Linked DNA regions of Homo sapiens. The protein of the gene in region 2 interacts with the protein of the main gene of each other region in a pairwise test. Each region holds a gene or a part of one and is shown on either strand. Other genes may lie near its edges.

Region 1 (7,647 bases), on a different chromosome or scaffold from region 2:
CATCTAGCTCTCACAGTTTTGTCATTAGAAGCAAAGGACCTGCCAAATTTCTGAACCTTTTAAAAAGAGAAAATAAATGCCACAAGCATTTTCTATTTTAGTTTTGGAAATGTTCTTTTTTTTTTGTATAAAGGGGGAAAAATTAAAAAAAAAAACCTCTCCCCTGAAAATATTTGATGTTTTCTATCTGAATATAAATCCTGCAGAAGTCATCTAAGCCTCCAAGTATCTGTTTCCTTCTTGGTTAATAGCACAACCTGGATGTCAGACAGGCTGACCATGACTCACAGTGGGACTCTAGGCAACTAGTGTCAATAGGCTTGGGGACCACAATGAGTGAAAACAAAAACCCTTCCTCTTCCATTGTGTGTTCTAAGAGTGAGCAGACCTAAGAGTGGTGGTTTAAGCACTTTCTATCAGAATGGTGATTGCTTCAGTGTTCTCAAGGAGATGGCAACATCATGGAAGGGCAGCAACGTGAGTCAGCAACGTGGTATATGGGTCCCAATCAGCATCTGCTTCTGATTTGTTTTTGAAAGAAAATCCTTAGTCGGTTTTCATTTGAAGCCTGCTGCAGATCACAGCGTCAGGGAAACATTCCACCTTGCTCCTGGGCCAGAGCATTCCTTGGCAAGAAAGATCTATTTAAAGATGAACGACCGAGATCGGATCGTGCCTTCCCCTTGGTTGAGCTGTTTTCTTATTTGTGACTGTAATAAAGTACACACACGTGTATCCATTATTGAGTGATTGTAATGAACCCTGGCTTCTAACAAATATTAAATAAGACATGTTGATTAGTAAGGATGTCATACAACTCTAAGTTAATTATCATGTGCTCACCCCCAACTATAAGCTAATTATCATGTGTCCAGAAAAATTTTCTGTATTTTTTTTTAGGACACATATTGTAAAGTGATTGCTAAAACATGTACAAATTGGGAATTGGTCTAATACTTACAGTAATCTATAAAATGCAATACTATTCAATGAGTTAAAAGGAAGATATAGATCTAAAATTGATAATATGGAAAAATGTTCATAATATATTGCTAAGTGAAGTGAGCAAATATAGAACACTGGCAAGTGATTTGTTTTGTTTGGAGTTTGTATATTATCAATAAAGATGCTATGAACATTATTGTAACATTTTTTAGTGGATACATGCACTCATTTCTCTTAGATATACCTAAGCATGAAAATGCTGAATTATAGTGTAGGTATATGTATAGTTTTAAAAGAAACTGCCAAGCAATTTTTCAAAGTAGCCGTACACATTTTCATTCCCTCTAGCAATGTAGGAGAGTTCTAGTTCCTTCGCATTCATGCTAATACTTGATATTGACAGTCTTCATTGTATCCGTTCTGAAGGGTGTGTAGTGGTACATCATTGTGGTTTTTACTTCTAGCAAGTGATTAAATTTTGTTTTTAAATATTTATGTGTAAAGAGAGAAGTCTAAAAGTGTGTATACTTGATATATTTTTCTATAATTCTTGTATAATGATTTTGTGTTACTTTGATAATTAAAAATAGAAAGAATAAGAAATTAATCCATATCTGAGCAAAGGTTTCACAAGACAAATTATCCCTCACTGATACATTGGAAGAATTTAAAAATGAATGGTATACTTATTTGAATTTCAAACTGAAAACATAACTGAAAGCAAAAGTCTCAGTATCTAGAAAGGAATTTTCATATATATCAGACAATTTTGCAAAAAATAATTAAGAAAAATATTTTGTTTGAAATCATCTGGCCGGGCATGGTGCTTCACACCTGTCATCCCAGCACTTTGGGAGGCTGAGGCTGGTGGATCACTTGAGGTGAGAAGTTCGAGACCACCCTGGCCAAAATGGTGAAACCCCTTCTCTACTAAAAATACAAAAATTAACCAGGCGTGGTGGCAAGCTCCTATAATCCCAGCTATTCGGGAGGCTGAGACATGAAAGTCACTTGAACTCAAGAGGCAGAAGTTGCACTGAGCCAAGATCACACCACTGCACTCCAGCCTGGGCAACAGAACGAGACTCTGTCTCAAAAAAAAAAAAAAAAAAAAATAGAAAAAAAGAAATCATCAAAGTTTTTAAGATGGTATTTATAGGAAATTTTAGTCAGCTTTAAGGACAAGTTCTTGGCTAAGAACTCACTAACTTGCAAGCACATGAAAAACAAGTAGAAGATTGGTGAAGTTTTATAAGTACTCACTCAGTCTTCTCCTCGGGAGATATACAGAGAGCAGACAAAATAAATCAGCTTTTGTCCTTGACCTGCACAAAGTGATGCTTACATTGGAAACTAAGCTAAGTGCCTCTGGCAAACTTTCTTCTCTAACAATTTAAAAGGCTTTTCAACTAGAGAAGTATGTCAGCTTTCCTCTGTCAGACCTTCTGGTTCTAAATGTCCCCCTCCAGACAAAACTGAACTAACTGACACACCTTATAGGAAGTCTGATAGGTGGTTATTAGGCTAAGGCTCTATGTCTAAGACCCAAATATGGCTTAATTCTTTCTTTTTTACAATCCTGTCTCCATCTCTTCTCATGTCCCAGAAGAATTAACAGACTGTTCCGCAAGCCTGGAAGTAGACACCCAGACATCTCTTTGATTCTTGGGTCTAGTCTGACTCTTTTGATAGAAATATGTTTGAAATCATCAACATGTTATTTCTCAAGACTTGACATCTGAAGGCTTAAAAATTCTCACCAATTTCCAGCGTAATATCTTGATCCACTCATCAGCTTCTACTCCGGTCTTTGCACAGAGATAAAATGTCCTGAATGGAAATACCAAACTAATAGGACAAAAGAAAGAACATAAGATATTGCAGATCATTAGCTATATATATATATATATATATAATATATATAATATAATATATAATATAATATATTATATATATTATATATATATATATATATATATATTAGTTGAACACTAATTAGAGTATTGCAAGGGAAAAAAGAATTGATAAAGGATGCAGGTAAGTACCTTGAAGTGCTGGTATATATGCACCTACTCCTGCCAGCAAACTGCAGAAATGTTAAGGAAGTTGTAGATTCATATTATTATTCCAAGTCAGATGTATATACTCGAATAAGACTTTGAAGAAGAAAGAAACATGTTCAGGACACCCCTAGATCCTTTTGTGGTTCATGTCTTAGGTTAACTCTAACACTTATGTATTCATTCAGCTGATCTCTCAAAAACTTGTGCTATGATCCAAAGAATAGGCAAGACAGAGAAGTTTGCTAAAAAGAACTCATTTGTGTTAGCTTGCTTCAACGAGGATAACTCTGCCTTCTGTGGTTGTGGGCAATTTCAACTATTGGGACAATAAAAAGAGACAATAAAACTAAATTAGTTATTTCTCCCATCTCTGGCCAAGAGTCAGTCTCTGCTGCAGGGAATAAGAACTTTCCTACTGGCACAAAATACTTTTCCTAAATGTATAGTAATTTTTCATTTGACTGTGTCTGATTACCTAGTTAAAATTATGTAAGCAATAAGGTCAGCCCTAAATTACATACTGAACATACTTCCTTACTTACAGTTGAGATGCAAAAATACCAAAAATCTTTTTTCTTTTTGTGAAAAAGCCTTCAGAAGGGTTTCTATATCTTAAAGCCTAAGCAGTGTATTTTGTTGATACCAGCAATTAAAGTTGAATAGGTAAGAGGTAAGTCTCTGTGCATAGAAGCTAATACCTGGATGTGAGGTCTAGTGGAGAGTGAGTGGACAGTGGTGGGGAGGGAGTGATACAGTGCATATACTCGAAAACTGGTTTCTGTCATTGTCATTGTTTGGTACTCCCTATGGGAGACATTATTAACTGTCTATTAATACAGATAATTATCCCTTTCTTTTGCTAACAGAACCCCAAGCAATAAATCCTAATTTGTTTAAGCCAATTATGATCAGCTGCTGGGGATGGCCATGGCACCCGGTCTCATAGGGGAGTTTCTGGAGAAACATTGGTTTTCCTGATAAAAAGGGACAGACACGGGTAATATCATCCCTACATCTTTCTTTGTACTTTGTTGAAAATATGAGACCTACAGGTGTAGTAGACACTCAAATCCTGAAGTAGCCAGCATGAGAAAAGGCCAGGAGAACAGTAGAGACCCTGGACCTGACCTTGTCACCATAGCTGCTTGCCTCCTGATTTTTGGATATATGAGAAAAATAAAGCTCTGCTAGCTCACAGGGCATGTCTATGCAAATTTTAAAAAGACACCCATTCTCAGTTGATATTATAGAATTAACATTAATTTCTTCAGTTGTAATAATGATACTGTAGTCCTATATGTGATATTTTATTCTTAAGAGACACATACTAAAGTCTTTAGGAATAAAGTGCCATGATGTCTGCAACTTACTTTCAATTGGTTCAGGAAAAAAAAAAAGTGGATAGACTAGGATAAAGCAAATATGGTAAGATATATTAATAACTGCTATGGAGGGTATGTAAACGTATGTCTTTCAACTTGTGTATGCTTGAAAAACTTTAAAATAAAAGGTAGTGGGAAATAAGACATTCCTTTCTCAAGACTCTTCTCCCAGTTAGAACATTTTTATAACATACTGATTATGTTAGAACAAAATATTTTTGTGCCATTTGCCAGAAATTGTCATAACAATACAAATCACCTATCATTAGAGTCAACAAAGTTATAAATAAAATGAGGGAGAAAGCCTCAAAGAAATTAAATTGTCTAAGATGTGAATGGCATCCTCTATGTGAGTCATACTTCTCCAGTACGCAACATAAGCTGAGCTGACCTGCCTGTTTGTTTAAGCTACTTTAAATGAGGTGTTATGTCACACTCAGCTGAAAACACTCCTTACATGCAGGCATGCCCCTCATATCTGATCTTTGTAGACATTAAGATATACAGCTTTCTATTCCTTAGCCAAAATAAGTGTCTGGCAAGAAGACATTAAAAAACGTTTTCTTTATAAAACAACTTACCAAAAACAGTTTACCCTTTCTTGTGAATAATCGAATTGTACAGCTGAACATTCTGTTAGGTCTAGGATCCGAATTGGTTCTGGTGACTAAATAAAATAAAAAGCAACGTATGTCACCATTAAAAAAAAAAAAAAAAACAGACAAATCTGTCCCTCACTTATTCCCCTCACAAGTTTTCCACTATGTGCAATTGTCATATTTCCTTTCACTAACAGGACTGACAATAGAAAAGCCCTACCAAGGGAAGTCCTTGGTTTTGGAATGAGCCTTTCATAAAACTGGGCATTAAGTTACTACCTTTATCAACTTACTGATGAAGATGGATTTTAACACATGGAAGAGAGGTATATTTTTCTCTCATTTTTTAAAACTTCTACTTTCTTAGAAATGTTATATAAGAAAAGTGAGAAAAAATAATTTTAAATTGGCTTAATGAAATGGGCATGGGAAATGGAGAAACTGTATTTTTAATAAAGGGACAAATTGCTGCAAAGAGACAGTTAATAAATTGTGGCAAGAGAATAATTACATTGTCCTAAACAGAGGGAATTACGTGCCCTGGGGAACTATGGTTTAGCCAATCCAAGAAAGCAATTTCTGGGACATACATCTCATCTTTGCAAAATAACTCTGCTCATTTCAGGAATCAAGAATTCATATCTCCAATCATTTATTAGGTATTTCAGGTGGATATAAAAATAATTTCAGAGATTTTAAAGACCTAAGTTTCTTTCATCTAGAGAATTGATTTTTAAAGGAAAAATATATTATCATGTTTCTCACCATCTGGTCTTTGAAGTATTTCAGTTCATTCCTGTGCAGAGTAAACCATCTTGTTTTCCAGGTCTGAGAAAAACACACACACACACAAACACACAGACACACAAAGTTTTGAATACAGGAATGTAATATTTGAACCAGATGATTTACTTTCATTTTAAAAGTATCTAAAAAATTAAATACTATAACCCTGAAAAAATTCTTTTGTGTCATTTCTGAGAAAAAAGTTTCAAAATATCTATAAAAATTAAAATAATTTCATGCATTAAGCTCAAAAAATTCTTTTGTGTCATTTCTGAGAAAAAAGTTTCAAAATATCTATAAAAATTAATTTCATGCATTAAGCTCATAATGAAGGCAGATATATCATTAGTATATTTTTAAATACAAAAAGAATTAGTCTATCATAAATATTCAATGTGACTTATAACAAACCACTACAATTTCCATTTTATTAACTCTATAATAAAGATAAATATTGTTCTTTGAGTACCTAATATGGACGATATACTATCATTGGAGGCTTTATATATTATATCCAATCCTCACACAACAATGCCAGTATTATTATTCTTGTCTTACAAACAACAAAACTGAGGTTTAGGAACCCTGACTCACATGATATTCTAAACCTTGCCTAAGAACTCCAAGGTATCAGTGGTAAAAACCATCATTGCCCGCTGTTACCTTCTTATATACAAACAGCATCCTACTCTATCCTGGGTGTCAATGTGCCCAGTTAAAAGAAGTAACAGAGGATTTAAACATAAATATGCTATGAATATGAATACTCTCTGTCCTCAGGGAGCATTCGATCTAGAAGGGACACAAATAATGAAATTATTTAGGCTAATTCCAAGCATGTCAGTGTCTGTGAGAGGTTAAATACCGTGACTCTTAAAACGAGAAGGAGCAGACACATTCCATGAAGGTCTTCTTGGCACATTGAGATGAAACAAAGGAATTCTAAAGATACAGTCTCATAAATGGGGAACATTTGGATACTCTGAACTTGTAAGAGCTTAAATTGTGTTTTTCTTTGGATTTTATAACATAGTTTCAGTAGCATCAGTGATGTTTTTGGCCTATCCTTAAAGAAACATTTTATACAATTTTGACTTCTTCCTTGTTTTAGAAGAAGAACGAAAGATGTTCTAGAGTAAACTTGCTATCTTCATCCTCAATCATTCCATTATGAGGACTATGTTTTATTGACTTTTAACTGCAGGCTACACCTATGCAGGGCTTTGTCAAAGAACAGTCAAGTCATTTTCCAGAATTTTGACTAATGAGCCATAAAAATGAACTCTTGAGTCAGGTGAATATTACAAATGGGTTAAAATGAGCAGGCAATTATGCTTCCAAGAAAAACTATCAAGATGAGAATTGAGTCTACATGACGTGTTCTCTTTTTTCTGTGGCTGGCATGAGCAAAACCACACTTCCTTACCTTGACCAGGCCTCCCTGTTTGGTGAGGTAACCTTCTTTGGTGCCCAGCTGAAAAAGAAAAGCACTGAGTGAAGACCAGAACTGTCACAACAGGACGTTTGTCCTTCCTTTCATGTCCTATTTTTAAATGAAGAATGTTTGCTTTTGATCTTTAAATTACTGTCTATCATTTTTCACCTAGGCACTTGAAAAGCTTCCATGTGTTGTGAGAGATTGTTTTCAGACTGGATCTACTGGCATCATTCTGTAGCTCCTAACTCCAGTTAGCAATTTGCAAACAATAAACGACATCATTTCACTTATAAAAGTCTGTGTTTGTCAAGGTGTGTCATGTGAAATCCAGCTGTTTGGATTGTTACAGGGTTATTAGCACATAAACACGCACACATCTACTGTCAATACGTTTGGGAGACTGGATTAAGAAAACTAAAAGGATGTTTTTACTT
Region 2 (8,295 bases):
GAGGTGGGAAGATCGTTTGAGCTCAGGAGTTAAAGATCAGCCTGGAAAAACAGTGAGACCCGATTTACACAAAAATTTAAAAATTAGCCAGGTGTGGTGCTGTATGCCTGTAGTCTCAGCTATTCCAGAGACTGAAGTGGGAGGATCACTTGAGCCCAGGAGGTCCAGGCTATAGCGAGCCATGACTGCACCACTGCACTCCAACCTGGGCAACATGGTGAGACCCTGTCTCAAAAAAAAAAAAAAAGAAAAAGAAAAAGAAACTATTTATTGATCACAGGATGGTCTAAGAATCTAAAGTCATTATCTCATCCTCTTCCAGCTCAAAATAACTTGAACACAACAATAAGAGTTCACTTTTATCAAACGAGTACTCTGTATTTGGCACACACAACTTCCTCTCATGTTAACAACTCACTGATATTTATAAATAGGTACTTGATGAAACCTATTTTACAAATGGGGAAGCTGAGGCACAAGGAGGTTATGTGAACCCAGGCAGTCTGATTCACGGGCCCCCTCTCTGAGCTAAAGATTTCTTTCAGAACTACCTGTGATACTAAAGCAGTGACATACCAGGGCACCCTTGGGCGGAAGGAAGCACCAAAGGACAGGGACCATCTAGTTGCTCAAAAGCAGAAGAGCAACTTGCATTGAGGGTGAGCTGGTATGAAAACACAATCACACATTGCTCAGGACGGTTTCTTCTCCTCCCTATTCCTACCTCGGCCCTGGCCTCAGGGCAGAAGTTCTGCATCAGACCTCAGGAGGAAGTGTGCGGGCCCTTAAGACACAAACTCCCATTCTCAGAAGAAAGTTGGTTGTGCCTCCAAGAGATGTGCCAAAAGATTCGTATATGATGACCATGGGAAAGATCCTAAACCATACTTTATTACGGAAAAGCTGTGAGCCTCACCAACATGGAATCTAAAAGACTGCGTGTGGAATTTCAAGGTAAGGGGGTAAAACTGGAACGTACTGGCACTTCACTTAGACTCTTTGGCAGAGTCACTTCGGTCACTCTCCTGATTCCCAGGGTGGAGGGCCAAGGAATGGTAAGGGGGGCCTGGGAGGCCACACGTACTTGGATTGTTATTGGGGATGGGCGCTGGCTGGGTATAATACGAAGGAGGATTCATGCCCTTCCCATCAGGCCCCGTCACAAGCCCCGTAGTTGGCCCAGGCATGGGAGCTGGAGGTGTGGGGTAATAACTGTTAACAGCCACTGTCTCTTCATAGGATGGAGGTGCGGATGGTGCTGAGGAAGGCCCAGTGGCCGCCTGGTAAGGTCCTGGAACCGACATTTTACCTAAAACAGAAACAGAACATACCAGATAAGAAATTCAGTTGATCTCTCCCTCTCTTTTTCACCTAAGTCTTCAATTTTCTTTCTGGCAAACAGAAATTCTGAGAAAATGACTTCCATCCAGCTTTGTCCAAAAGCTAGGAAGAGGGTTAATGTCCCTTCAAGACCCCAGAATTAATCAAAAAGTAAATAATTACTACCCAAAATCACCAAAACCTGGAAAATCCAAAGTGGAAACATCAACCAAATAAGGGTCATTTCTTCTTCACATCTTAAACCATTACCAGACAATGACCTACGTACCTTCCATATCTGGTGTTTCTTCTTCGTTGTTTTTTTTTGTTTGTTTTTTTGTGGTTTTTTTGGTTTTTAAACCACTGTGGTTTTCACTAACTGTTTCAGGTAACGGAAAAGATAAAGGCATTCAAAAACCAACCACAAATTATCACAAATAGCAAAGGGGCCAGATGCCACAAAATGCACACTGTATGATGCTATTTAAATAAAGGTCAGAAATAGGCAAAATGAATCCATGGAGCGGTTACTCTTGGAAGAGGAAGAAGAATCTGGAAAGGGGTATGAGGGGGCCTTTGCGGGGGGCGGGTCCTGTTCTCTTTCTTCACCTGGGGGCTGGTTACAGAGGTATGTTCAGTCTGTAAAAATCTCAGTTGTACAATTAAAATGTATATACTTTTTTGTATGTGTGTTATAGTTTTGTTTTTTGTTTTGTTTTATTTTTTTGAGACAAGATCTGTCACCCAGGCTACAGTGCAGTGGTGTGATCTCAGCTCACTGCAGCCTCCACCACCCAGGCTCAGGTGATCTTCCTGCCTCAGCCTCCCAGGTAGCTGGGACTACAGGCATGTGCCCCCCCGCCCGGCTAATGTTTTCATTTTTTGTAGAGATGGGGGTCTCACTTTGCTATCTAGGCTGGTCTTGTACTCCTGGGGGCAAGTGAACCTCCCGCCTTGGCTTCCCAATGTGCTGGGATTAAAGGCATGAGCCACCGCGCCCAGCCTCTGTGTTATAGCTTTTTAAGAAGGAAATACACATAGACTCCAGTTCTCATTTTGAAAAATGAGCACCAGAGCAGCCAGGCACACATTTTCTTTTGTGAGGGCAAAGAAAGGATTTCCCTCCAGCCCTGGCAGAGCTGCTGCTCGCCTAGAATTACACCCTGCACCCAGAGTGTGCTCCTGTCTGATGTTCCATGATCCAGCAGCCATGGGGCAGCTGGAAGCAGACACAGTGCTGTTCTTTGTGTGGCTGTTTTTCTAACTGGGCAGGGTTCAGGCTGCCTTAGAAGAGCCATTCAAACCTGTCTCGGGAGAAATGGGAAATGAGGCTCCGGGGCAGCGAGCCACAACCACCACTCCCCTCTCCCGACACTGTCTGCCTCATTTTCTAGAACTCGTGGGAAGCCAAGGCAGCAATTAATCCCACTGCAGGGAGAAGGGTAGAGTCCTTCTCAGAAGCCCTGCCTCTAAACCAAGCCCCAAAGAGGAGACTTCTCTGGAGGAACCGAAGAAAGGGTATTCACCTCAAAGTGGAAACAGAGACCAGGTGCGGTGGCTCACCTGTAATCCCAGCACTCTGTGGAGCCGAGGTGGCAGGATAGCCTGAGCCCAGGATCTCAAGACTAACCTGGGCAACATGGTGAGACCCCCATCTCTAAAACAAAACAAAACAAAAGGGCTGGGTGCAGTGGCTCATGCCTGTAATCCCAGTACTTTGGGAGGTTGAGGCAGGAGGATCACTTGAGCCCAGGAATTCACCACCAGCCTGGGCAACATAGTGAGACCCTGTCTCTACAACGAATAAAAAAAGTAGCCAGGTGTAGTGGCACACACCTGTAATCCCAGCTACTTAGGAGGCTGAGGCAGGAGGATTGCTTAATCCTAGGAGGTTGAGGCTGCAGTGAGCCATGATCACTCCACTGCACTCCAGCCTGGGAAACAGAGCGAGACTCTGTCTCAAAAACAAACAAACGAAACAAAGTGGAATAGAGGCGGGGGAGTGAACGTGATAAAAAGAAAGTCAGTAAGTAAAGATAGGTTGGGGCTGCATTCTAGAAAACTTTGAAAGTCCCTTGGAGAACACGTGTTCAAGACTTCTTTCTATCAGAGTGCTGTCCAACAGAATCTTCTGTGAGGATGGAAATGCTCTGTATCTGCTGCCCAATATAGCAGCCACCAGTCACGTAAGGTTATTGGGCGTCTAAAATGTGGCTTGTGGCCGGGCACGGGGGCTCATGACTGCAATCCCAGCACTTTGGGAGGTCGAGGCAGTGGGATTACTTGAGCCCAGGAGTTCAAGACCAGCCTAGACAACATAGTGATACCCTCTCTCTACAAAATTTTAAAAATTAAAAAAATTAGCCAGGCATGGTGTTGCACACTTCTGGTCCCAGCTACCCAGGAGGCTGAGGTAGGAGGATCACTTGAGCCTAGCAGGTGGAGGCTACAGTGAGCCATGATCATGCCACTGCACTCTAGCCTGGGTGACAGAGCGACACTCTATGTCTAAAAGAAAAAAAGAAATGAGCTAGTGTGAGTGAAGAACTGAATTTTTTTTGTTTTAGCTTCTTTTTCATCTTTTTACTTGCCAATGAATTTTTACTTGTATTTAAGTTTAAGCAATTTAAATGTGAAAACTAACAATTCAATTATTGGGAAGCTTTTATGTAAGTCTGGGACAACTTGAATATATGAATCATTTTTTCAATGGTAAATTTGATGAACACTGAATATAGATCAAAATGTTTTTTGATAAAAATTTAGCATTCAATTTGGGATAGAATGTCAATGTAAAAATACACCCTGGGTTTCAAAACTTAGTAGGAAAAAATGAATGTAAAATATCTCATTAATAATTTCTTATATTGATATATTAAAATGACCACAGCTTAGATATATGAAGTTAAGTAAAATGTATTGTTAATTTCACCTGTTTCTTTGTACCTTTCAAAATGTGGCTACTAGGCCGGGCATGGTGGCTTACACCTGTCATCCCAGCACTTTGGGAGGCTGAGGCAGGAGGATGGCTTGAGCCCAGGCATTCTAGATCAGCCTGAGCAACATAGGGAGACACTGTCTCTACAAAAAAATTAAAAATTAGCCAGACATGGTGGTGCACCCCTGTGGTCCCAGCTACTTGGGAGGCTGAGGTGGGAGAATCACTTAAACCCAGGAGTTCAAGTGAGCCGTGACTGCGCCACTGCACTCCAGCCTGGGCGAGACTGTCTCAAAAATAAATAAATAAAAACAAAATAAATAAAAAAGAGGCCAGACACAGTGGCTCACGACTATAATCCCAGTACTTTGGGAGGCCAAGGCAGACGGATCGCCTGAGGTCAGGAGTTTGAGACCAGCCTGGCCAACATGGTGAAACCCCGTCTCTACTAAAAATACAAAAATTAGCCAGGTGTGATATTGGGCGCCTGTAATCCCAGCTACTCAGGAGGCTGAGGCAGGATAATCACTTGAACACGGGAGGTGGAGGTTGCAGGGAGCTGAGATTGCGCCATTGCACTCTAGCCTGGGCAACAGAGTGAGACTCTGTCTCAAAAATCAATAAATAAATACATTAAATGTGGCGGCCAGGCACGGTGGCTCATGCCTGTAATCCCAGCACTTTGGGAGGCTGAGATGGGTGGATCATTTGAGGTAAGGAGTTCGAGACCAGCCTGGCCAACATGGTGAAACCCCATCTCTACTAAAAATACAGAAATTAGCCAGGTCTGGTGGCGTGCGCCTGTAATCCCAGCACTTAACCTGGGAGGCAGAGGTTGCAGCGAGCTGAGATCACACCACTGCACTCCAGCCTGGGCCACAGAGCGAGATTCCATCTCAAAAAAAAAAAAAATGTAGCTACTAAAAAATTTTAAATGATGTAATGAAGCTTGCTTTCTGCTCCTAATATACAGCAAAGCTGTGAGCCGTGGGAGTCACAGAAGGTTATAGAGAAGGGGAAAGGCCCAACCCCAGAAAAGACAGATGAGACAGAAGGTCTTTAAGAGGAGCAAGAAGCAAAGTAGAGAAGGCCACAGAAGCAGGAGGGCAGGGTGGGGCTGTAATGAGATCGCAGGAGGTGTTTGTGAAAACAGGCTCTGGTTTAACACTGAGACATGGTGTAAAGTGGTTTGAGGCGTGTTGCTAGTTTCCTCTGACGTACAGGAACAGAAATGCAGCAGTCCCAGCTTGCCCCTAAACTCAGCGGACATCCCTCCCAGATGACCCCGGGAACCCCTGACATCTGCTTCTGGCTTTGTTGAAACTTCCAGCAAAGGGAACGACAGGGCACCCTGGGGGTCTGGAGTGACCTACATCCGGGTTGAACGTCGAGGACTCGCCGTCACAGCCCCAGACCCACCTCCATGATTTATGGTGAAAACTGACTCGTATAAAAACTTACAAGACCAGGAAAAGCCAGTGTGTACAGAAATCCTCAAGGAGCATGGTTGGTCGTGATTGCCAATGGAATGCTTTGAGGGAAAACAAGGCCTGGGGCATCCTAAACCTCCAAGAGGCAATGGCTGAATTCGGCAGCGGCGCAATTCCTGCAAAAACCACGGCCTCTCCTCCCAAAGTGAGGAAACTGCATCTTTACAGAGTCAACACACAGGTGTGGGGGATGGGAGGATGGGAGCTTTCTTTTGACGACCTTTAAAAGATGGGTGGGCCCCAGTTTCTCGTTTTGGAAATTAAGGCCTCGGCCACCGCCTCTCCCCCTTTATTGAGACCATCTTTCATGTGGTAACATCTTATCTTCTGGGATTTCGAGACACTGCATCTTCTGAGCATTGCTTTGAGATCAAACAGCCACACAAACACATTTATAATTCTGAAAAGAACAAGAGCAACAGGCCAGAATAGTAAAAAAGACTCATAACCGCTGGTTTGGAAGTTTTCTAAATAAATTCCACAGTCTTCCCTCCCTCAGGCCCCAAGGCCAGGAAATGCCACCACGGTTAGTCCCATTTTGTTTCCCTTGTTTTGCGCCTTCATTTCAATTTGGCTTATCTCCTGGGATAAGAGGCCCACCCACCAACCATCCCTCTCCTCATCACCCCCCATCCCCTCCTTATCACCCCCCCAACTACGAAACTCTTAGAACAGCAATTAGTCCCCCTCACCCTAAACTCACACACACACTCTCCACAATGTCTTTTTTTTAAAAAAGAGGGAAAGGGAGAAAGAAAGAGAGAAACAGGGTCTCACTCTATTGCCCAGGCTGGAGTACAGTGGCATGATCATAGCTCGCCACAGCCTGAAACTCGTAGACTCAAACAATCCTCCTGTCTCAGCCTCTGGAGTAGGTGGGACTACAGGTGTGTGTCACCATACCTGGCTATAACTTTTTAATTTTACTTAGAGACAGGGTCTTGCTAAGCTGCCCAGGATGGTCATAAACTCCTGGGCTCAAGTGATCCTCCTGCCTCAGCCTCTCAAAGTGCTGGGATTACAGGCATGAGCCACCGTGCCCTGCCTCTCCACACTGTGAACCTGGGAGATGGAGGCTGCAGTGAGCCGAGATCGTGTCACTGCACTCCAGCCTGGGTGACTGAGCGAGACTCCGTCTCAAAAAAAAAAAAAAAAAAAAAAAAAGAAGGAAGAAAAGAAATTCGAACACTTTTTGAACAAAGGGCCTCGCGTTTCCATGCTGCACTGGAGCCCAGAAATTAAGTAGCCAAATGTGACCGGTGGTGACAGAAAAGGAAAAGGAGGCATTCCTGATCCATGGAGAATTTTGATCTGACATGCCCAGCTGTGGAATCACTTTCACATCTATAAATATGCCACTTGGGATATCTTGGGGTCCCTTTTAGCCAAAAGTTTTCCTCATTCTACCTCTCAACAATTTGCTCAACGAAAGGTATTCTTGCCCAGGCATGTTGGATCACGTCTGTAATCCCAGCACTTTGGGAGGCCGACGTGGGCAGATCACTTGAGCCCAAGAGTTTGAGACCAGTCTGGGAAACAAATTCAGACCATGTCTCTACAAATGGTACAAAAATTAGCCGGGCGTTATGGCAGATGCCTGTGGTCCTGGCTGCTCTGGAGGCTAAGGTAGGAGGATCACTTGAGCCCAAGAGTTTGAGACTGCAATAAGCTAGGATCACGCCACTGCTCTCCAGCCTGGGTGACAGAGCAAGACCTTGTCTCAAAACAAAAGAAAAAAAAATAGAGTCACAAAATCATATATAAAGACAATCTTTAAAAATTTTTTTTAATTAAAAAATATATATTAGCCAGACACGGTTGCACAAACTTGTAGTCCCAGCTATTAAGGAAGCTGAGGTCGGAGGATTTGCTCGAGCCTGGGAGCTTGAGGTTACAGTGAGCTGTGATCACACCACTGCACTCCAGCCTGGGTGACAGAGTGAGACCATATCTCTACACAAAAAAATTATAATAATAATAATTTTTTTTTTTGAGTCAGAGTCTCACTCTGTCGCCTAGACTGGAACGCAGTGGCGTGATCTTGGCTCATGGCAACCTCCGCTTCCCAGGCTCAAGCAATTCTCGTGCCTCAGCCTCCCGAGTAGCTGGGATGACAGGTGCCTGCCAACACGCCCAGCTAATTTTTGTATTTTTTAGTAGAGACAGGGTTTCACCATGTTGGCCAGGCTGGTCTCAAACTCCCAACCTCAGATGATCAGCCCGCCTTGGCCTCCCAGAGTGCTGGGATTACAGGCGTGAGTCACCACGCCTGGCCAGAAATTATTAAAAACCAGAAAAATCATGAAAGGAAAATACACCCTCAGTGGAAGCAACACATTTGAACTCTGGAGGGATCACCTCTCTTTCTGCCTCCCTAATACATGAAAGTGCGTTTACTGTGCACTTTTATGCCACATACTTGATGCCATGCAAAAAATACCTGCCAATGATGGGTTCCAACTCATTCTGTCACTGGGCACCTTGCAATTCAAGGTGACCTGCTTCTTAGTAAACAGGCAATAGAACGTTAATGATCAGCCGAGGATG

What was found. Proteins that work in one complex are often made in the same cells at the same time.
Region 1: the proteins of LITAF (region 2) and DAPP1 interact in binary tests that used the Homo sapiens proteins (3 or more experiments, as listed by UniProt).

Annotation. Positions count from the first base shown.
Region 1 is NC_000004.12:99,861,180-99,868,826, reverse strand, and holds part of DAPP1 (dual adapter for phosphotyrosine and 3-phosphotyrosine and 3-phosphoinositide), read right to left. Parts: intron 7,250-7,647; coding exon 7,202-7,249; intron 5,818-7,201; coding exon 5,755-5,817; intron 5,058-5,754; coding exon 4,972-5,057; intron 3,102-4,971; exon of another isoform or gene 3,032-3,101; coding exon of another isoform or gene 2,991-3,031; intron 2,794-2,990; coding exon 2,706-2,793; intron 2,271-2,705; coding exon of another isoform or gene 2,253-2,270; exon of another isoform or gene 2,209-2,252; intron 711-2,208; coding exon 642-710; 3' UTR 1-641. UniProt on the Homo sapiens protein: May act as a B-cell-associated adapter that regulates B-cell antigen receptor (BCR)-signaling downstream of PI3K.
Region 2 is NC_000016.10:11,555,427-11,563,721, forward strand, and holds part of LITAF (lipopolysaccharide-induced tumor necrosis factor-alpha factor), read right to left. Parts: intron 5,741-8,295; exon of another isoform or gene 5,720-5,740; intron 1,310-5,719; coding exon of another isoform or gene 1,305-1,309; coding exon 1,085-1,304; intron 1-1,084.